Linked DNA regions of Homo sapiens. The protein of the gene in region 3 purifies or fractionates together with the protein of the main gene of each other region. This does not show direct contact. Each region holds a gene or a part of one and is shown on either strand. Other genes may lie near its edges.

What was found.
Region 1: the proteins of SLCO1B3 (region 3) and ADCK1 purify together in Homo sapiens (affinity purification with mass spectrometry; one large-scale study listed by BioGRID and IntAct). This does not show direct contact.
Region 2: the proteins of SLCO1B3 (region 3) and SLC39A6 purify together in Homo sapiens (affinity purification with mass spectrometry; one large-scale study listed by BioGRID and IntAct). This does not show direct contact.
Region 4: the proteins of SLCO1B3 (region 3) and SEC62 purify together in Homo sapiens (affinity purification with mass spectrometry; one large-scale study listed by BioGRID and IntAct). This does not show direct contact.
Region 5: the proteins of SLCO1B3 (region 3) and SDF4 purify together in Homo sapiens (affinity purification with mass spectrometry; one large-scale study listed by BioGRID and IntAct). This does not show direct contact.
Region 6: the proteins of SLCO1B3 (region 3) and CNIH1 purify together in Homo sapiens (affinity purification with mass spectrometry; one large-scale study listed by BioGRID and IntAct). This does not show direct contact.
Region 7: the proteins of SLCO1B3 (region 3) and FAM114A2 purify together in Homo sapiens (affinity purification with mass spectrometry; one large-scale study listed by BioGRID and IntAct). This does not show direct contact.

What each region holds. Positions count from the first base shown.
Region 1 is NC_000014.9:77,932,312-77,935,514, reverse strand, and holds the end of ADCK1 (aarF domain-containing protein kinase 1), read right to left. Parts: intron 2,296-3,203; coding exon 2,124-2,295; 3' UTR 501-2,123; downstream 1-500. UniProt on the Homo sapiens protein: Appears to be essential for maintaining mitochondrial cristae formation and mitochondrial function by acting via YME1L1 in a kinase-independent manner to regulate essential mitochondrial structural proteins OPA1 and IMMT.
Region 2 is NC_000018.10:36,110,186-36,112,340, forward strand, and holds part of SLC39A6 (zinc transporter ZIP6 isoform 1 precursor), read right to left. Parts: intron 1,065-2,155; coding exon 874-1,064; coding exon of another isoform or gene 862-873; exon of another isoform or gene 809-861; intron 1-808. UniProt on the Homo sapiens protein: Zinc-influx transporter which plays a role in zinc homeostasis and in the induction of epithelial-to-mesenchymal transition (EMT).
Region 3 is NC_000012.12:20,880,205-20,883,704, reverse strand, and holds part of SLCO1B3 (solute carrier organic anion transporter family member 1B3), read right to left. Parts: intron 2,851-3,500; coding exon 2,685-2,850; intron 288-2,684; coding exon 103-287; intron 1-102. Other genes in the region: SLCO1B3-SLCO1B7 readthrough transcript protein, read right to left, coding at 103-287, 2,685-2,850. UniProt on the Homo sapiens protein: Mediates the Na(+)-independent uptake of organic anions.
Region 4 is NC_000003.12:169,983,807-169,987,306, reverse strand, and holds part of SEC62 (translocation protein SEC62), read right to left. Parts: intron 1,503-3,500; coding exon 1,442-1,502; intron 1-1,441. UniProt on the Homo sapiens protein: Mediates post-translational transport of precursor polypeptides across endoplasmic reticulum (ER). Proposed to act as a targeting receptor for small presecretory proteins containing short and apolar signal peptides.
Region 5 is NC_000001.11:1,222,002-1,225,501, forward strand, and holds part of SDF4 (45 kDa calcium-binding protein isoform 2 precursor), read right to left. Parts: intron 1,968-3,500; coding exon 1,831-1,967; intron 1,357-1,830; coding exon 1,243-1,356; intron 1-1,242. UniProt on the Homo sapiens protein: May regulate calcium-dependent activities in the endoplasmic reticulum lumen or post-ER compartment. Isoform 5 may be involved in the exocytosis of zymogens by pancreatic acini.
Region 6 is NC_000014.9:54,427,875-54,431,374, forward strand, and holds part of CNIH1 (protein cornichon homolog 1), read right to left. Parts: intron 2,531-3,500; coding exon 2,387-2,530; intron 1-2,386. UniProt on the Homo sapiens protein: Involved in the selective transport and maturation of TGF-alpha family proteins.
Region 7 is NC_000005.10:154,021,911-154,025,410, forward strand, and holds part of FAM114A2 (protein FAM114A2), read right to left. Parts: intron 1-3,500.

The DNA.
Region 1 (3,203 bases), on a different chromosome or scaffold from region 3:
CTCCTGTAAATCCAATTTCCTCTGAATTCAGGACATTTGAGACCCAAACTCAGGCATATAAGACAGCCCAAGGAGCAAATGTATTCCATCTCTACAGCACTGTATAATTTAAAAGAAAAAAACTAAAAACCACAGGCCACTACTCAGCAGCTGTGTGGCCACAAGCAAATTACTAAACCTCTCTGAGCGTTGGTTCCCACCTCAGTAAGATGAGGCTAATAACCCCTCCATCACAGAGGGGATGGGAAAACTCAATGATGTAACATATTTGCAGAGCCTAACACAGACTCTCACATATGGAAGGCACTCAGTAAACATCTACCTCCTCCCTTGCTATCTTCACACAGTCCCATACTCCCAACTCTTCTTGCCTCTCTGCTCACCCCAGCTAACTGTTCTGGGTGCTGGGCCCACTGGCACCATGCTGATGTTTTAGATCCCAGGACAGCACGAAGCCAACCATTACACATACCCAAACTAAAAAGCAAGTAACCATGACCTTGAACAGAAAGGACATTTATATTTACTTCAGTGGCTATAAAAGACACCATAAAATATACTATGCAGCACACATCCTCAAGATTAATAATCAGATATTGCAAATTATACTCTCAGGTCCCTGGGTGCATCCAACTGGTCACTAAGAACAATTAATTCTTTTGGGAAATAAAAGGATTGTGAATTGTCACTGATCACTGAAAAATCTGCTTGCTGTACTATGAATAAAGAGTACAGAAAATTAGGCTCAAATTCAGGATTTTTTCTGCCCTTGTGAATTGGGTGAAGTAAGATCAGAGAGGCTCAAATACAATTACTGTCCGTGAAAGCAGACAGTAGGACCTGCCAAAGACAAAGACATGGGAATTAGAGCAGGAGCTTAGGGATGTCCAAGAAACAGAAGCAGACAACCAGGCTGGGGGGAGAGGCAGTGCTGGCAGCAAGCAATGGGGTAGAAACACAGAAGTTTCCCAGTGAAAACCCAGCCACAGTGACGGAGGTTTCAGCAAGAGGACTAAGGTCTCCAGAAGGACTGGGGGGAGACAAGTAGAATTCCAGGCCTAAAACTGGGGCCACTGAATGAGAACCAAAGGGATAAGTCAGGAAACAGTAGAACAAGGTTGGTACCCAGGTCACAGAAAAACAAGGTCCAAGGTTTCAGCTGAGCCTCTGAGTTCCTGGCCTTGGGCTTCTTAACTCCTCCAACCAGAGTCTGAGTCTTGGAAGGTAAGAGAAACCCCCAAGAAGCAGGAAGTGGCCCCATAGTGGAAGTGGCCCCACAGGTTGGAAGGATTACAGGAGCAAGAAGCCAAGCAGAAGATCACACCAATACTCGATTCAGGTCCACTCTGACCTAATGGGCATTGTAGGTGAACTCCCAACCTATAAGGAAAATCCCACCAAACAGCCCCTGGCCTTCTGTTCCCTAGATCTCCCTGGGAAACCCTGAGGAAGCAGCAACCAAGAGGAACCATAAGCCCTTGGCGAGGACCATGAGCACATTCTGGAAGGGCACGTGCCTGGGGTCAGGTGGGAGGCCAGTGAGTTATGATGGACAAATCCTGCAACCTTGAAGGAGTTTTTATTGAAACACAGTACAGAAAACACCAAACGTCACTGACAGCAGTGAGCTCATAGCTGTAATGGAGTTGGCCCCAGATGCCAAACCACCTCGCTGAGGTGTGACTTCCTCTGGAGGGTGACATGGCAAGGAAAGGGAAGGTGTTCTCTGTCAAATTCAGAGACCATGTGCACCTCCAACAAAATCACACTCCCTACAAGTTCAGTGTGCCCCCAGTGGCACCCGTGGCACATCTTGACAATGGGAAGGGTTAACGGAAGTAGTGGGGACATCCAACCCAATGGCACATACCAGGAATGGGAATGTAGGCTGCTGAGTCTTCTTGGAGAAGAAGAGAGAGCTATGCCACAGTTCAGCTTGTGGGCCCTGAGACAAGGGCCACAGTGTGCGGAGAGGATTCCAAAGGAGGAGAAGGATGGTGACATGGACAGTGACTCTGGGGCTGCGGGCCACGATGTGGCAAAAATGGAGCAGCTGGGTGGAGGCAAGATGAGGGGCTGAGGAGTGGAAAGACACCAGAATGGGGCAGGGAGAGCAATTCCACTCAGAGTGGAGCAGGGAACAGCCAGCATATTAGGGCCAAGACCCGGTCAGCCAGCTTCAACCCCTTCACACGCAGGATGAGCTCATGGAGGTTGATCTGCCATAAGTTGAAGGCCTCGCTGAAAGAGATCTGGGTCCTTCTGAAGAATGAACAGGTATTCTTCTTCTTGTGCCTGGAAAAAGGGAAAGAAAAAAGGAGAAAAGAGATAAAGAGGCAAGAAACACTAGCTCTGTATCATTTAGAAAAACTAAAGATGGTGGCTTTGGCCAACTCACCAGCTCCCTGCCCCTAGGGACTACTCTTGGATACAGGATCATACTATACCACTACCCAATCGGGAGCCAGAGGAAATCAAATATTTCAAAGGAGTTTTTCAAATAAGTGGAATAAACAAAAGCAGTTGTTTCACAGGGCATCAATGGTCTAATAAACCCATTGGGTAGAACATTCCAATGTTTCTTTCTCCAAAAGCATAGTAAATCTATGCCAACCAAGAATCTCCCAAACTCAAAAATAGTCAAAGCCTTTCCAAACTTTCTAAGGATAAGAATCACTTGGAAACCTGGTCAGGTGGTCCTGGGAGGCTGAGGCCATTATGAATTCAGCCCAGCTCAATCCCTTCTGCACCAACAAAAGGACATGATGAAAACTGGTGTTTATGATGATGACCTATTCAAGACTTCATTTCCTGAACCCTCAGAGGAAGAATAAATCAAAGTTGGCCCTTTCAGTATGCAGTATATTATGCTGTAAACTAATTTAATATTTGATAGTGGGTACGTGATATACGTGGTCAAATCTCCTTTCACCAGATAGGTTCCCAGAATGGTCCATTCCCAGCACGGAAGGGCTGGAAATTGAGCATTACCTAGGCTTTCTCTCTTGAGTGAGAACAATCATCCAGAGCGGGGCCCTTCCGACGTATTTGTCACACTCAGTAATACAGCCTGAAACCCTCTTTCCTCTGGAACTAGCTCCCTGAGGAAGCACACTTCTCTTCCTCATTAATGCCCAAAGGTGCTGAGGCATCTAAAAAGATCTGAGGTTGGACATGGTGGCTCATGCCTGTAATCCCAGGAC
Region 2 (2,155 bases), on a different chromosome or scaffold from region 3:
AGATTGGTTGGGATTGTTTTGAGGACATTAGTGACAAAAAGATATGACTCCTTTGTTGATTAATAAACTAAGCATTCTGAAGTATACAGCATGCCAACAATATGCATCTTGTCCTAGACTTCCTACAAATCTATAGAAAATTCACTGCCTGATTACTGAGATCATACCCTAAAATGATACATCAGAAGGATGTAGATATTTTTGTGAATCTGGACACATATTAAGCAAGATAAAGGTGTGATCAACAATCCAAAAAAAAAAAAAAAACTCTAAAGAACCTATATTCTTATATGCCACAAATTTCTGAATATAGAATCACTTCTCATAATGACTGCATTTAAAATCTTTTTTAAAAAAATGATTTTTTTTTTGAGACAGAGTCTTGCTCTGTTGTCCAGGCTGGAGTGCAGTAGTACAATCTCAGCTCACTGCAACCTCCATCTCCTGGGTTCAAGTGATTCTCCTGCCTCAGCCTCCCAAGTAGCTGGGACTACAGGCGCATGCCACCAACCCTGGTTAATTTTTTTGTAGTTTTTAGTTGAGACAGGGTTTCACCATGTTGGCCAGCCTGGTCTCGAACTCCTGACCTCACGTGATCTGCCTGGTTTGGTCTCCCAAAATGTTGGACTAACAGGCATGAGCCACCGTGCCCAGCCAAAAAAAAAGATATTTTATTGAGCCTATAGTCCTAGCTACTCAGGAGGCTGAGATGGAAGGATCATTTGGGCTCAGGAATTTGAGACCAGCCTGGACGACATAGCAAGATTCCACTTCCTGCTCCCCCAAAAAGAGAGAAAAAAAATGAGGCTTTACCGAATATTTTCTCTATTTTATTGTTGGTCAATAATGTAATAAGACTTCTTAAAAACTTACCATATCAACCAGAGCAACATACATGAATAAGCCAGCAGTAAGTGCAAATATCCACATAGAAACATTTTCAGCATAATGACCAATGAAAATTCCTGTTGCCATTCCAAGATACGCCAGCATGGCTGACAATGCATTATAAAGGACAGCCTGCTTAACGGTCATGCCAGCCTTTAGTAGAACAGCAAAGTCACCTTTAACAGAAAACAAAAAAGGAGGAAAAAGTCATTGAGAAATCATTTTTAAGACACATACCAAGATACTTCCCAGATTTAAGAAAATTTTCCAGTGTTTTTGAGAGGGGGAAAAGAAAACAAAATTAAGAATGACCTAGGGTTAAAGCAGTGTTAGTAAATCACCCTAACAGCTGTAGAAACTATTGTTTTTCCTTTTTATTCTTCATCATTCAACTTGATGTACAAACTTTTTTTTTTTTTCTTTTTTTTGAGACAGTATCTTGCTCTGTCACCCAGGCTGGAGTGCAGTGGCACCGATCTTGGCTCATTGCAACCTCTGCTTCCTGGGTTCAAGCCATTCCTGTGCCTCAGCCTCCTGGGTAGCTAGGACTACAAGTGCATGCCACCACACCTGGATAATTTTTTTACTTTTAGTAGAGACGGGGTTTCACCATGTTGACCAGGGTGGTTTTGAACTTCTGACCTCAGGTGATCCCCTTGCCCCGGCCTCCCGAAGTGCTGGGATTAAAGGCGTGAGCCACTGCACCTGGCCAGATACCTTAACCAAAAAAATTTTTTAAGGCTTACACTTTGTCAAAATGATAAACACTAAAAATTTAATATTGTGGTCTTGCAGTGTTTTCAAGGAGCTTGGAATTTGGCCACAAAGAAGGGAGGAATGGGTGGAGAACACACATGAGATGATCAGCAAATGATAATGGTAATGCATAAAAAACAGCTGAAGAGTTCAATGCTACAATTATAAAAGGAGAAAAGAGACACATGAAGATGGAAATAAGAGAGGGGCTTCATGGGACTTGAATGTGGAACATAGATGCTGAAGATGATAAGGAATGGCTGAACATATAACAAGGAACAAAAGTGAAAATGGCATCAGCGGTATGTGTGTGAATATATCTCCAAAACAAGAAAAACAAGGACGTGAACTGGGATCCAGAACTTGGGAAGGTTTTAATGCCTAGTGACAAAGAAGAACAATATTGAAAACACAACTCATCCACTTCCCTTCAATTCCAATGAGATTCTCTTTCTCAACTTTTGTTAATGGAAGATGATTCCTTTGTATCCTGTAGTCTTATTCACCTTGT
Region 3 (3,500 bases):
TGACAAAATATGAATTTGAGCTCAAAATACAGAAAAATATGCCTATCATTAGGTGTGTTTTAGTCTAATATACATGACAATGTTTTACAGGATCATACTTACTTCACAGTCAACAAGATAAATGTGGTACCTCCTGTTGCAGAGAACAAAGAGTTTATGACTTGAATTGCAACATAGATGAAAAATTTCCTTGTACAAGTATTATCTCTTGGGCATTCACCCAAGTGTGCTGAGTAATTTCTGTTCTGGAGACCAGTTACTTCCACACAACTACAGTTATAAAACACCTAAAAATAGTTTTTGAAATATTAACAAATACATTTGCCAAATACAACAGGGCTATGAATACATTCCATTATATTTAAAGAAGTCTCAAACTAAAATATTTACAGTTTAAAAAATGTTATAAAAATATAGTTGCTTAATAGTGAAGGCAAAATAGCTCCCTGAATTTAGGAATTTAAGAAATTAGTGTATGAAATTCTGTATATAATTTTTTCATTAATATACATTATTTAAAATATTTCTCTTCCACCTACATTTTCTTTCCAAAATACACATTCTTACTCTCTTTGGCAGGTTCTAAGTATTAGGGACTTACTCTGGGAAAGAACTACCAAAAGAATCCAGAAAATATAGTTTGAAACGGGACAAAACTTAGCCACTCATGAAAATGGGACAGAGTGCAGAGGAAATAGAGCCAGGCAGTGGTGCCAGAATTCTATTTAAGCAGGCAAAAGCAACATTCAAGACCATAATGACAGGTGACAAGATATAGTATATTATTACCAGAAAGGTTTAACACAAAAGAATGTGCTGGCTAATGGTTAGAATATAGAAGAGGAATATTAGGAACAAGTAATTTTAGAGATCAGGCAGGCAGTGTATGTGGTTAGGTGGCTTTAATAAATTCTGCTCTGATTCTAGGCTAAAGATTTAAGTTCATCTTGAACCTACTACTGCTGAAGACTATTTACTGAAGGAGAACTTGTAAAAGAATTGGCCAGGCGTGGTCACTCACACCTGTAATCCCAGCACTTTGGGAGGATGAGGCAGGCGTATCATGAGGTCACGAGTTTGCGACCAGCCTGGTCAACATGGTGAAACCCCGTCTCTACTAAAGATAAAAAAAAATTAGCCGGGTGTGGTGGTGAGAACCTGTAATCCCAGCTACTTGAGAGGCTGAGGCAGGAGAATTGCTTGAACCCAGGAGGTGGAGGCTGCAGTGAGCCGAGACCATGCCATTGCACTCCAGCCTGGGTGACAGGGTGAGACTCCATCTCAAAACAAAAAAAAGAATTTAAATCCATACTCGTATGGTTCAAGAAAGATTCCTTTTTTCCTTTTATTTTTTTTCAATAGGAATAACATGGAGGAATCTTTTATGGAGCAAGCACATTGGCCAATGAAACCCAACTTTGATACAGAGAGCATTATTTTAACAATTTTACTGAGGATTTAGTAAAGGAACTTTGCAGTAGCCCCCACATAGCATAGCCATTGCCAATATTAAGATGATGTCTCCATGAAGACAGAGCTCTCTTTAGGATACTAATATCACCTCTCTTTCAGGTCTTCACTACTGGACAACACAGGACCAGGGATTAAATGGGGTACTCTTACTGAAAGATACTATAGCTGATGAATATGAGATGTGGGCTTTTAAGTATAGTCTTTGGGCCACAAATGTGCAAGTTTACTAAAGTTGTAGCCTATCTTCAAGGAAACTAGGAGGCTTTATTCTTCAAATTTCTCCATGCCGTTTAATAATACGTTGGTAGGATATTGGGCAAGGGAAAGATAGAAAATGTTTAGAATTGAAGCATGGAAGAGTGTGGTAGAGAGTCATAATCGCAGCTGACTATATTGCTAATGTTGGTAATAGGGAAAGGGCCTGAAAAATAGTTATGCAACTTGTGAGATGTTGAATTGATTGTAGGTATGGGGAACAGCATACCTAATTTCCAATCATTGGGAGTTACCCAGGATATTGGGAAAAACAGGATATGTGTCACATGGAAAAAAAAAAGCCTTTGAGTTAAGAAAGAAATGGAATTTCCAATGGATATGTTGGCAATCAGTGAGTAGGATACTAAATTATACTGAGTAAAAGAAGTGCCAGCTTTGGGAACATCAAAATAGGAAATCAAGAATAGGGAATTCAAGTGAACATGAAGACTTGACTCATTTCTTGGAAAGTCCAAGGCCACAGTGAGTCCCTAGCTACACTTATCAGTATGTATATATTAAAATGCAAATAGATTATTGTTCTCGTAAAGCAGGTAGTGCTGACAACAGGCTAACTCTGAACTTTCCCCTAACTTCCAAAGGGTAAAGTAATTCCAAATAATAAAAATCATGTGCTTTAGTCAAATGAGATGCTTCTTAGAGACCCTAAATGCATTCAAATTCTAACAGGTCATATTCTTAAAATCTCAAGAAAAAAAGTGGGTAATCTCTAATTAGAATTCAAGTAACAGAGAAGTCTGATTGTGTCCTAAGCAGAGTTTTATATGAAGCTTTGTTTACACTTCACAGCTATCACGAGGACAGATAATACTGGAATCTTTTTGTTTTATCTTTTTATTGGAGACCTTAGTTATAGGAAGATTTGATAAGTATTTATTAAATCAAATCTGTGATTTTGATTAAGGAGAGGAGAAAAAGTGAAAACTAATACTCACTGTATGCTTTTTAATACCACTTGAGGATTTGCATCCTGCTAGACAAGGTGACAGGTAAGTTATTCCATTGTTCCCACAGACTGGTTCCCACTGACTTTCATCACAATTGCACTCTGAGTTGCAATAAGAAAGTGGTACATCTACATGAGATGCCACTGAATTATTTCTGAAAATATATGATAGAAATATATCAAAAAAAGAGAAAGAGGAAGTAGAGAAAGAGCAGAAGAGGGAGACAAGGGGATAAGGAGAGGGGAAATAGAGGAGGAGGAAGAGAAGAGGAAAAGAGAAGAGAAATAAGAGAAAGGGTTTTCCTTTAATTAGATAGAGAAATTTGATTTGCTGATGTCAAAATGGCAATTTTTGTAATGCTTATTGACTTTTAACTCTCCTTCTTTACCAAGACATGACTTATGACCTAGAAAAAGTAAAAATTAAAAAAGAAATAAAAGAGGTTAGATAAGACTTAGACAAGAGGTCTTTATCATTCTATCAATGAAACTTTACATTATATAAGTAACTTCATTTTTCTGAGATTCAGTTTCTCTTCAGGGAGGTAATGGCATTAGATTGAGGTTCCTCTAAGCTCACTTTAAAATCCTCTGAATCTATGCATGTTAGTTAACATTGTTGAATTTTACAATCTATATTTTAACTACATAAAAAAAAAGATTTCAATGTAGTTAAAACCAAACCTCTGAGGAATAAAAAATCAAGAATAATAGAATTAGTTGAAAAAGGATAAAAAATCTCTGCATATTTTCTGAATAAAACTATAATACTGTTTATACTGATTTACTTTATAATATAATTATA
Region 4 (3,500 bases), on a different chromosome or scaffold from region 3:
GTTGGGACTACAGGTGTGAACCACCACACCCGGCTAATTTTTTGTAGAAACGAGGTTTCGCCATGTTGCCTAGGCTGGTTTCGAACCCTTGGATTCAAGCCATCTCCCTGCCTTGGCCTCCTAAAGTGTTAGGATTACAAGTGTGAGCCACTGAGCCCAGCCTTAAAGAGTTATTTTGAATGGGATCCTATCATACCATATTGACCAAGCTTATTTTAACTGCTACCTATTTTTTTTTTTTCTGTTTGTTAAATCATTCTTTCCCCATAAAACCTCCTGGAATACACACGTTAAAAAGCAAATCAAAAACAAATCAAACCCCCAGCACTTTGGGACAACGAGGCAAGTGCCCAGGAGTTTGAGACCAGCCTGGGCAACATGGCGAAACCCCATCTCTACAAAAAAATACAAAAATTAGCGGGGTGTAGTGGAGTGTGCCTATAGTTCCAGCTACTCAGTAGGCTGATGTGGGAGATCACCTGACCCCAGCAAGTCGGGCTGCAGTGAGCCATGATTGTGCCATTGCATTCCAGCCTGGGTGACAGGAATGAGACCCTGTCACAAACAAGCAAATCAAAAGGTATAGAGAAAATTAAGTCTTCATCTAATTCTTATTCCACTTCCCAGAGGTTAAGTACTATTAAGCTTACCTGTATTCTCAGAGACTGCCTATATATAATTAACTAGCTACAGGGACTTTTTTTCTAAATAAGTAAATGAGCTTATACTATTCTTACTCGTCTGTAACTTTCTTTTCTTTTTTTATCTATTCTAGGTATAATATCCTTGCACATGTACGTTTGTGCAACTGTGATTATGGCATAGGGTAAATTCCTTAAAGTGGAATTTATTAGATCAAATGGTATAAGCATTTTGAATTTGAAAGATATTTGCTAGATTATACTCAAGTATAGTCTAAGGGATTTGGAAAAAAACAGATAATGTGTCAATGCACACACTTTGTGCAACTGTATGGGAACAGCCTAGAATTGCTGGGTCACTGCAGACACATAAAATTTCAAAGATACTGACAAACTGCCCTTTACAAAAATTAAAACAATAGACATACCTATCAACTGTTAGAGAGAGCTGATTTTTTTCTAAGACCTTTAATGTTAAGGTTTGCAAGACTCTTAATCACTACAGCTTTAATTTGTATATGAGTGTGATTAAGTATCACTCATGATGATTGGTCATTGTATTTCTTTATCTGTTAACTACCTTGACCATTTTTCTATCAGTTTGTTAATCTCTTAAAAGATCTTTAATATGTTTCAAATATTTTCCTTAGTGTATTATTTATCTTCTGACTTTATTTAAAGTATTTTTAAAATGACAACTATTTTATGTTAAATTTAGGAACATTTTCTTTTACAGTATCTGCATATTGTTTTCTAAATTTTAGATTGCACTTTATAGCTATTAACATCTCACTACTTACCAAGAATTAATCCCATGACAAATGTTTTAAAGTGAACTGGGTCATAGATCCATACATACACCTAGAAGAATCAAGAAACCTCGGTGCTTAAAAGTTCTAATGTCACATTAGAAAGTAATGCTTAATTCTATATTTTAGGTCCCTTAAAGCAGTCATCAACCTCTTAACATACGAGAAGTAATTTCTAAGGTAAATAAATTCCAAAGATCTTTCCTTCAGTAGTAGTGGTTCTTCTGGCGCTAGAAAATGATTATAGGATAACTATAAATTCTATAAAGCACTTAAGTAAATTTGTATGTTCTTACATACACTTAAAAATTTGTTTGACTGGGCTTGGTGGCTCACGCCTATAATCCCAGCACTTTGGAGGCCAAGGCGGGCAGATCACTTGAGGTCAGGAGTTCAAGACAAGCCTGGCCAACATGGTGAAACCCTGCCTCTACTAAAAATACAAAAATTAGCCAGGTGTGGTGGTGGACGCTTGTAATCCCAGCTACTCGGGAGGCTGAGGCAGGAGAATTGCTTGAACCCAGGAGGCAGAGGTTGCAGTTAGCTGAGATCACACCACTGCACTCCAGCATGGGCGACAGAGCAAGACTCTGTCTTGGGGGAAAAAAAAATTGTTCCATGTGTGCACATCATTATTTATTCAACCAAAACACCAGCAACTGCCAACCTTTTTGTCCCTAATGTAATGATGAACCAGTCTGGGATAAAAGCGCAGTTAAGACAGATTCCAGCCAGGCCCTATTACAGATCTAGTATCACTCAACTCCACACTTTTCTCTCCTGAGAAGACACAAAGATCAATTATTAAAGATCATGCTTGGTGAACATAGTCTCTATGACTGTATTAATTTCATTGCCTACTCCTCCATGGAGGGCCCATAAGCTGGGAACCACTACTTCAAAACTTAATTTACTTTTATCAGGCTCTTATTTTACACAACAGAAATTTACTTCATTCAGATCAGAACTCTGTTTGATCATTCATCCATAAAACTCAGTTTTATTTCTTAGTTTCTATAAATAACAGTACTCTTCCCTCTTATTTCTATATTGACCAGAACTCTTTATTGTCTTTCCAACGTGGTTCTTCAATTTTTAACACCAGAGGTTCCACTTTAACCTCTTATTTTACTCTGCCCATTTCCTTGGGAATCAGATTCACAGATATTACTTCTGCCAGTTTCCATTCTAAAAAAACATGTTTTTTTAAAAAAGATATTTCACAACTTTAAAAGTTATGGAGTGCATGCTGCTTTCTACAGAATAAAATCTAGGCTTCTCAGGATACCAAGCACCCATGCGTTTGCTCAGGCTGTTTCCTTCCCTAACAGACCTAACCTCCTTCCTGGCACGCCTGGCAATCTGCCAGTCATCTTCAAGTCTAAGCTCAAATGTCCTTTAGACCCTTCTTATCCTTCCTGACTAAATTAACTATTCCTACCTGGTGCTTTCACACCATTAATGCTTACCACACTGTACTATATTAACATGTTTAAGTGCCTGTATCTTTGCTAGACCATTAAGAGATTTTATCCTACTTATCAAGCTATTCCCAACGCCTATAAAAATAAAAATTTCTATTACAGTGGTTCTCAACAAGGGGTTCACATCAGTCACCTGAGGACACTTTATTATAGATATATAATCCTCCCCCACAATCCCACTCTAGATAGTCTCATGCAAGTAAGAATTTCAAACACACAACCCTAGGAGCCATGACTTTATAGATGTTACTATTGTATAGGTATAACAGGAAAGGATATATCCTGAAATTCACAACAGTTCAATGCCCAGTATATAACTCATGTTTACGTACTGGTGAAGTGACTGAATTAAGCAGTCTTTATGGAAGGCTACCACCATACAAATCTTCCATTACAAATGATAAGCATAAAGCATCAAGAAATGTTAAAAATTTTAAGCCCCTCAAGTGATGTGTCTGACTTACATTCTGTAAGAGATAGAGACTTGTAGCTATCTCCTATTCTGCTCTTTTTTCTTTGATAATAATGGAAACCCTACATTTCGGCTGGGCAAATAATCATCCTGT
Region 5 (3,500 bases), on a different chromosome or scaffold from region 3:
GTTACTGATAAGTTAAGCAGGCACAAAAAATAAAGGTGTAAGATACACCCAGCCTGCCAGGAGCAGCCCCGTATCACGTGACCAGTCCCGTGGGCGACACGGGCGCCCTGCAGGGCAGCAGAGAACCCACCCCAGGATGCCGGGCAGCGACGGAGCAGGCGACTCTGCACGTTCTCCTCAAAGCCCCAAACCAGACCACGGGCATGACCGGGAAGGGCACACGGAGCCCCAGGGTGGCAGCAACGCCACGGTACCCGCTCAGCTGTGCCTCACAACTGGGCCAGCAGGGGCTTCTGCCTGGACGGCTCTCCCAGACCTGGCCCCGTGCAGGGTGGCCCGGCTCTCCCCTCACCTGGCCTTAGCCCGGGTGCCGGGCCCCACCCGGCCCCACCCTCTTCACGCAGAGGCACCAGCTTGGACCCGCCCAGGGCTGAGGCTGCCCTGCTGGCCAACGGCCACACCCCAGACCCAAGGAAGAGCCTCTCCCTGGGACCTGACCGCTCTCTGGTGACCACCTGACGGCCACACAGATGTCTCCAGCAGACCCAGGCCTCAGGGCCAGGCCCTCAGGCACAGGCTGTGCCCTCTCCCCAGGAAACTCTGCCTCACGTGGCCTTCAGAGTACGGGGCAGGCCCCAACCCAGACTCACAGCCTCAGATTCTCTGCAGGACCTAACTGAGTAACGGCCGTGAAGGTGCCGTGACCAGCAGAGCTGAAAGCTGCCCAGGCACAGCTCACACGCTCCCCACCGGACTCCTGGGCGGCGCCTAGGTCAGCAACGGCTTCACCCACTTCCCTCCTGACAGCCACCACCAACCAGGTTGGGCCATGCTGTTAAGACGAACACGTGTGCACACAGCGGGTGTGAGGGCGCACTCACCTGCATGTACTCACGAGCCTACATGAACAGCTACCTGGATGTACTCACAAGCACACGCACAGCGCACTCGTACACACGACACGCACACACGTACAAGCACATGCACAGTGCACTCGTACACACGACACGCATACACATGTACTCACGAGCACACACACAGCACACGTACACACAACATGCACACACGTACTCACGAGCACGCGCACAGCACACTCGTACACACGGCACGCACACACGTACTCACGAGCACACGCACGGCACACTCATACACGACACACACGGCACACTCATGTACACACAACACACGCGCGCACACACAGGATGCCTGAGACCGGTGGCGGGAGCCTGGCTGAGCACTCACTTTCCTCATCCACTTTGAGTTCCTCGTTGAGCCTGATGGCGTCGGCAACCTCCTTCTCGCTATGGCCTTTACTCGCCAAAAACTTCACCTTATACTCGTCCCAAGACACGTGACCTGGAAGAGCAGATCACACCTGTCAGGGCCTCTGATACTGAGCTGAACTTCCTTCTCAACTGAGATGGGGTCTTGCTCTGCTGCCCAGGCTGGAAGCGGCAGGATGCCAGCGTCTGGAGCCCCAGGGCCCCGGCCAGCACCCCACACCCGTTTCCTCACCTGTGAGGCCAGCCGGCAACGTCTGTGCCTCGGGGCCACCAAGAGGCATAGACACCACCAGATGAAGGCCCCGAAGACATAAGAGGCGCCCTCCATGGGCCACGCCCAGTGCTTGGCACACACACCTCTGTCACCAGGATTCTGGCATCATGAACCCAGCTTCCGTGCACCCCACCACACCTCGGGGTCTCCGGCTGACACTTCCCCACCGCCCGTCCCTCAGACAGGGCCTGTCTGCCCTCCAGGCACCAGGCAAGGCCCATGGCCCTGCCCGCCCCGCCCACCGCCCCACCCACCCCGGCCCAGCCACAGTACCGTCCCCGTCAGGGTCCACGGCGCGGAAGTGTGTCTTGCTCTCCTCCATGGCCTCCTGGAAGTGCTCGGCCGTCTTCTCCATGATCCAGCGCTGCATCTCCTTGGCACTGATCTTCCGGTCAGTGTTCACATCCACCCTGCAAGACAGCAAATGGGCAGGTGGCCGTCAGACTGGGCCCCCAGGACCCCGAACAGCCAGACGGATGCCGCCGGCCCAGGACTCCATGGCTGCGTGAACCTGCCACCAACAGCGACAGGCTCCACCAGGCAACGCGAAAAGCGTCCGGGACGTGGGGCTTGTGGGGTGCCGGGCCACGCCAGAGACACTGGGGAAGGTGGATGCCACGGTCCCCTCCCCGGGGAAACACATGGACCCTCCCCCTCTGTCACACAGAATCACCACCAGACCCCACTCTCCAACCACAGCTTCCAAAAGTCACACTCTTCACGTTTTATTTTATTTTTTGAGATGGAGTCTCACTCTGTCACCCAGGCTGGAGTGTGGTGGCGCAATCTTTGCTCACTGCAACCTCCGCCTCCCGGGTTCAAGCGATTCTACTGCCTCAGCCTCCCGAGTAGCTGGGATTACAGGGGTGCACCACCACGCCTGGCTAATTTTTGTATTTTTAACAGAAATACGGTTTCACCATGTTGGGCAGGCTAGTCTCAAACTCCTGACCTCAAATGATCCACCCACCTCAGCCTCCCAACGTGCTAGGATTACAGGTGTGGCCACTGGGCCCGGCCCATGTTTTATTTTCGATGCTTCAGGTATGGCTACACAAAAACCTTCATATAGGCAGGACGCAGTGGCCACACCTATAATCCCAGCCCTTTGGGAGGCTAAGACAGGTGGATCACTTAAGCCCAGAAGTTCAAGACCAGCTTGGGCAACATAGGGAGACCCCACCTCTACAAAAACAATTACGAAAATTCGCCAGGCGCGGTGGCGTGCACCTGTGGTTTCAGCTACTCAAGAGGCTGAGGTGGGAGGCCTCCCGAACCTGGAATGCGAAGGTTGCAGTGAACTGTGATCACACCACTGCACTCCAGCCTGGGCGGCATACCGAGACCCTGACTCAAAACAAGACAAAACAAAATCCTTCATATAAATTTAAGTTGTGAGATTTAGGAAGAAGACCGTGTGGGGACTTAACATTGTGTGCAAGGATGGAAGAGACCACAGACTTGGGGGATAGGGACACAGACTGGGGACACGGGGCCAGCGCAGGCCAGGTCAGGAGGCCACAGGCCCCAGGACAGGTCACTCCCGTCCCAGCTTCAGAGCTCGGCTTCACCATTATGTCTTTGTGGAAGCCACAGGCTCCTACCCCTGCTGCAGCCGCCCGTGTCCTGAGCTCACCTGTTGGAAACTTAACCCCCAGGGCAACAGCACTGGGAGGCAGGGCTTCCAGAGGTGCGAGGTCTTGAGACCCCGGCTGGTGCGTTTGCCGGAGGCATCCCCGAGAGTAGGGTGCCCTGGCCCCTTGCCTCTATGCTCCGCTCAGGGGCAGCCGCGGCCACGTTATGAGGTGGCAAGCAGGCCCTCGTCAGGCAGGTGTGGCCTCTGGGACCTGGGCCAGGCAAGCTTCGAGGGTGCACACACCGCAGGCACGGCTCAGAAGCACTGGGCAGAGATCCTCATGGAAGAAGGCCAGGCTGCCGCTCAC
Region 6 (3,500 bases), on a different chromosome or scaffold from region 3:
TTACTAATTATTAAAAAAAAACTCAGAGCATGAGAGAGTATGCTTTATATAGCAAACTAGTATCACAGAAAATGACAAGACTAATGACAAGTTCACAGTGATTTTAATTTGCATTTATGGACTTTTGCCTAACATATGACTTGGCTCAGTGCATATGCTGTAGTTGTCCCCTATTCCCTTCCAATTTTAGCAAGTAGAACGGCACAGCTGAAAGCTTAATGGCGGATCAGAGCTTAGAGAAGCCATCCAAACATCACACACTCTGGAGTTGTGTCTAATAATAGAATGAGTATCTCTGGAGGGCTCACTTCACGCCAGGCCCTGTTAGGTCTCTTATATACATTACCTTGCTTAATCCTTCAAGGAGTCCTAGAAGGCAGGTACCATGTGTATCCCCATTGTATAGAAAGGAATGATCAATCAAGGATCTTTCCCATTACAGAAAGGATCTAAGCAATAGCAACTTTTAGGAAGTGGTTAAAAAAGAAAAGGGGGGAAAACAGCAAAATAAAAGGCAATGACCTTTTGATTTAGGTTTAAGAACTGCCAAGGGCAATTCTACAGAGTGCTATGGGAACGGCATAGGGGCATGATTCAAAAAGCACATAACTCTAAACAGAAATACAAAGGAGTTGAACAAGCTTGATAGACAACCTTAAAACACAACAAATGTCCTGGTGCTACCATATCCTGCTGAACATTTTCCCACAACTGCACATCTCCAACTTTATCATTTATTCAATCATTCATTTCATTTCTTTCATTCAACAAATACGTATGAAGTGCCTATCATACACCAGCCCGTTCCAGACATTTGCTATGGAAACTTATGAAATGAAAATTAACAGGAAATTAAAGTGACACATAGAATTTCACTTTTCAGAGCACTTCTTTGTTTCATAGATGAGTAATATCTGCATATGCACTAAAGGATACTCATTTTCACAGTAATAGCCTCTAAAGGCATAAAAATACCAAAAATACCTTTTTCCTAAATTTCAGTCTAACCATTCATCTTTTCTATGATGGAAACTTATGTATGAAGAGAAATATGAATATGAATATAAGCCTATCTTAGCAAGTTTTCAAGTAATGAAAAAGAGAAGGGAAGCTTATGCTGTTTTTTAAAGCTTACAGCTTTTTTGGAAATATTCTGAAAATCAAGGAGAAAGTCCTCTCTAGTTGAGTATGTATTAATAAAAAATGAGAAAGTATTTTATATAAGTGATGTGTAAAAGTATATTCACATAGCTTAAAGAAATATATAATTCTACATTTAACAGTGTCCTTTTCTAGTTTTAATAAGCAGTCATTTCACTGCACCTACAACACACCTACAGCAGTGGTTCTCACCCAGGGCAATTTTGCCCCTCAGGACATCTGGCAATGTCCAGAGACATTTTTGGTTGTCATGAGGGGGCAGGAGGGTGCTCATGGCAACTAGTGGGTAAAGGCCAGGGATGCTGCTGAACGTCCCATGATATACAGGACAGCTTCCCACAGAAATTCCCACACAGCCCAGAAGCGTCAACAGTGCCGAAGCTGAGACACCCTGACCTAGAGGAACAATGAGTCCATGAGAGTATAAAAGGAAAAAAATCAGGCTGGGCGCGATGGCTCACGCCTGTAATCCCAGTACTTTGGGAGGCCAAGGTGGGCGGATCACCTGAGGTCGGGAGTTCAAGACCAACCTGGCCAACATGGTGAAACTCTGTCTCTACTAAAAATACAAAAATTAGCCGGGCGTGGTGGTGCACGCCTGTAATCCCAGCTACTCAGGAGGCTGAGGCAGGAGAATTGCTTGAACTTGGTGGGGCGGAGGTTGCAGTGAGCAGAGATCGCGCCACTGCACTCTAGCCTGGGCAACAGAGACTCCGACTCAAAAAAAAAGAACAAAAATCGGAAACTGCACCACCCTGTAAGGTAGAACTACTTCTTTCATTCATACCACTCAAATCAAGCAAATCAGAAAATAAAGGGCAGAGCACACCACTTATGAAGAATGATAAGGAAAAAATGAAACATAATGTCTGGAGAGACCCTGAAGACAAGCAGAAATTTCTGCAAACTCACACATCCCTATCCTTCAATGACATCACTTTGCCATGGAGAATGAGGACCATCCTTTACTGACTGAATGTGTCTGAAAACTTATGAAGCAGCATCCCTGACCAAACCTTCTGCCTCTGATGGCAGGCTGGTTTACTGCCTTGACAAGCACCAGTGTGGGCCACACTGAATGTGTGCGAATTTGCTGGTGTGCACCATGCACACTTAAGACACTAAGTTATTCTTCAAATGGATTTTGAGGTGTGAAAACCATAATGCCTGCAAACTTTTAAAGCAGCAAAGTGAAAGCATATTTCATTTTACCTTTTCAACTTACCCATATAGGTAGTAAAAAAATGCTAGAAGATAAAAAGCTAATTTGCACCATCCTTCCTTCTGACAATATGCTAGAATATCTGCATTCATGATGGTTGTAGGGTCATAGAGTCCTGGGCCACTCATCACTGGTCTACTCATATACCTGGAATAAACACAGTCTATTAGGCATTCAGAAAGGGCAGTAAATGTTCAGATAAGAAAGCAGGTCTTTCTTCTAAAACATCTGTTACGAGAGGTGGTCCATAAAGGGAAGCATTCTTTTACTTATGGGTAAAATGCTTTCCTTTTACCATCTTAATTTTAAAAGTAGAGCCCCTAAATGAGCAGAATGAGATAGCTAAACAAGTTTCTTCTAGTCTCTGCCTTTTCAGAAATCCATGAAAAATAGGAAGAACTGTAAAAAGAAAATAGGTGTTTTGTTTTTACTTATCTTGGCATAATTTTAGACTTACAGAAAAGATACAAGAACCTTTCACCCAGATATTCCAAATGTCCATTTTTACTATATTTGCTTTCTCCTTCTCTTTCTCATTCTGAGTACTGGTTTTTTTTGGTTTTTTGTTTTGTTTTTTTGTTGTTGTTGTTTTGAGACAGGGTCTTACCCTGTAACCCAGGCTGCAATATAGTGGTGCAATCTTGGCTCACCACAATCTCAGATTCCTGGGCTCAAGCAATCCTTCTGCCTCAGCCTCCCAAGTAGCGGGGACTACAGGCACACGCCACCATGCTTAGCTAATTTTTTTTGTAGAGGGGGGTTTTGCCACGTTGCCCAGTCTGTTCTCCAACTCCTGGGCTCAAGTGATCCACCTGCCTCAGCCTCTCAAAGTGCTGGGATTACAGACATGAGCCACTGTACCTGGCCCTGAGTAAATTTTTTTTTTTTTGAGACAGAGTCTTGCTCTGTTGCCCAGGCTGGAGTGCAGTGACACGATCTTGGCTAACTGCAAACTCTGCCTCCCAGCCTGAAGCAATTCTCTGCCTCAGCTTCCCAAGTAGCTGAGTTTATAGGCGCCCGCCACCACTACTGGTTAATTTTTGTATTTTTAGTTGAGACAGGGTTTCACCATCTTGGCCAGGCTGGTCTTGAACTCCTGACCTTGTGATCCACCCAC
Region 7 (3,500 bases), on a different chromosome or scaffold from region 3:
AACCAAAACAGCATGGTACTGGTACCAAACGGGAAATATAGACCAATGGAACAGAACAGAGGCCTCAGAAATAACATCACACATCTACAACCATCTGATCTTTGACAAACCTGACCAAAACAAGCAATGGGGAAAGGATTCCCTATTTAATAAATGGTGCTGGGAAAACTGGCTAGCCATATGGAGAAAGCTGAAACTGGATCCCTTCCTTACACCTTATACAAAAATCAATTCAAGATGGATTAGACTTAGACCTAAACCCATAAAAACCCTAGAAGAAAACCTAGGCGATACCATTCAGGACATAGGCATGGGCAAGGACTTCATGACTAAAACACCAAAAGCAATGGCAACAAAAGCCAAAACAGATAAATGGGATCTAATTAAACTAAAGAGCTTCTGCACAGCAAAAGAAACTACCATCAGCGTGAACAGGCAACCTACAGAATGGGAGAAGATGTTTGCAATCTACCCATCTGACAAAGGGCTGATATCCAGAATTTACAAAGAACTTAAACAAATTTACAAGAAAAAATCAAACAACCCCATCAAAAAGTGGGCAAAGGATATCAACAGATATGTCTCAAAAGAAGACATGTATGCAGCCAATAGACACGTGAAAAAATGCTCATCATCACTGGTCATCAGAGAAATGCAAATCAAAACCACAATGAGATACCATCTTACACCAGTTAGAATGGCGATCATTAAAAAGTCAGGACACAACAGGTGCTGGAGAGGATGTGAAGAAATAGGAATGCTTTTACAATGTTGGTGGGAGTGTAAACTAGTTCAACCATTGTGGAAGACAGTGTGGTGATTCCTCAAGGATCTAGAACTAGAAATACCATTTGACCCAGTGATCCCATTACTGGATATATACCCAAAGGATTATAAATCATGCTACTATGAGGACACATGCACACATATGTTTATTGTAGCACTATTCACAATAGCAAAGACTTGGAACCAACCCAAATGTCCATCAATGATAGACTGGATTAAGAAAATGTGGCACATATACACCATGCAATACTATGCAGCCATAAAAAAGGATGAGTTCATGTCCTTTGTAGCGACATGGATGAAGCTGGAAACCATCATTCTGAGCAAACTATCACAAGGACAGAAAACCAAACACCACTTGTTCTCACCCATAGGTGGGAACTGAACAATGAGAACACTTGGACACAGGGCGGGGAACATCACACACCTGGGCCTGTCGTGGGGTCAGGGGATGGGGGAGGGATAGCATTGGGAGAAGTGCCTAACATAAATGATGAGTTGATGGGTGCAGCAAACCAACACGGCACATGTATACATACGTAACAGGCCTGCACGTTGTGCACATGTACCCTAAAACTTAAAGTATACTAATAAAATAATTTAAAAAAGAAAAAGATACTTGCACACGCATGTTTAAGCAGCACAATTCAAAAGTGCAAAAATGTGGAACCAACTCAAATGCCCATCAATCAACGAGTAGATAAAGAAACTGTGGTATATATATACATGATGGAATACTACTCAGCCATAAAAACGAATGAATTAATGCATTCGCAGCGACCTGGATGAGACTGGATGCTATTGTTCTAAGTAAAGTAACTCAGGAATGGAAAACCAAACATCATATGCTCTCATTCACAAGTAGGAGCTAAGCTATGAGGATGCAAAGGCTTAAGAATGACACAATGGGCTTCGGGGACTCAGGGGGAAAGGATGGGAAGGGAGTGTGGTGTATACTGCTCAGGTGCACAAATTGGGTGCAGTGTATACTGCTCAGGTGATAGGTGCACCAAATTCTCACAAATCACCAGTAAAGAACTTATGTAATCAAACACCACCTGTTCCCTGATAACCTATGGAAATAAAAAAAATTGAAAAAAACAGAAGACAAAAAGCACTGGTAAAGATAACTATGTAATTATAAATGATATACATGTATATTTCTTCTCCTTAACTGATTTAAAAAGAAAAAGAAAAAAAAGTCCCTGTTTGTAGAGAATCCACACAGTTAACTTTATGTTTCCTGTCACAAGAAAGACTCTAAGACCCTCACTCAGAGCTCTTTGCTTTTAATAGACATCTCAAATAAAATTAGTTACCTGGTTTCTCACCCACAGATTAGAAATAGAAAACCAAATAAGATTCAGGGGATATCAGAAGCCAGCTAACAGTGAAGTAAAAGATGAACAGATAAATGAACAGAAAGAAATAAAGATGTACAATTCTAAAAAGCAATCAGAGACATTTCTAAAAAGCATTGCAGTTTAGGTCATTTAATCTGGTAATTCTCAAACTTGTTGGTCTCAGGACCTTGTTCTTGTAAAACTTTCTGAGAACATTAAAGAGCTTTTTTAGTGTAAGTTTTATACATATACATATAAAAAGTTATAAATATTTATATAAAGCTAAAACAAAGTGTTTATTAATTCATTCAAAACAGTAAACCCATACCACTTATTAACATAAACCTACTTTTTATTTTAAAAAACTATATTTTTCAAAAAAGAAAAAGTTTAGTGAGAACAGTGCCATCAGGGTTGAATCTCTTTAATATCTAGTTTAACAGATGACAGCTAAATTCTCTTATCTACTTTTATATTCAGTCTGTTATGTTGCTTTAAGTATATGAAGAAAATCCAACTTTACAAAGATACATAGTTGGAAAGGGAAGAAGTATTTTAATAGCCTTTTCAGATCATTATTAATATTCTTTAATACCACATTAAAACTCAACAAGTGGTCGTTTCTTAAAAATTAGTTGCAATGAACCATATTGCAGTATACCTGAAACCATATCATAAAATTTTGTACACTAAATTAAAATCCATTAGGTCTTTTACCCATGGTGATTTGACATTTAGAAAATATTGGTTCTCTGAGTTATGCAGACTTTCCAAATGCTGACACATTTCCTTGTTAAAATATCAAAAAGTGATATTTTAACAAATATGATCACCACCAATTTCATAAGAAGAGTCTATAAGCACTGGGAAGCTGTCAAGCTCACCACAGCAGCAAATATGTTTTACAAAGTTTCAACCTTCACTTAAATTTTTATCATGACTCACAAATAAATTAGTTGCTCTCCTTGAAGAAAAGGTTCACTTCATTCATTTTCAGGAAAATGTGTACCAATTATCCTATTCTGAATAGTCTCTGTGACTGTTATCCTTTCAAGTAAAAATGGTATTCCACGAAAAAAGCACATAGTTCAGCTCACAACTCAAATAATGTAAGTGCTTTTCCTGAGACAACCATCATACTTCAGTAGGCATCACACAGAATATTTGTAAGATGCATACTTAAAGGTAAAGATTTAATAAAATTAATAATTTTTACTGCTTCATCAAGGACAAGATTAAATAAAACTGGCACTTTTTTTTTTAACTGCCAATGCATGGCAATGAAAATGCAATGACACTAGTAGAGTCTGCTAACATCTTGATCCATGTTATGGCACCAGCAATTTTATGCATCATTGTTATTCACCAACA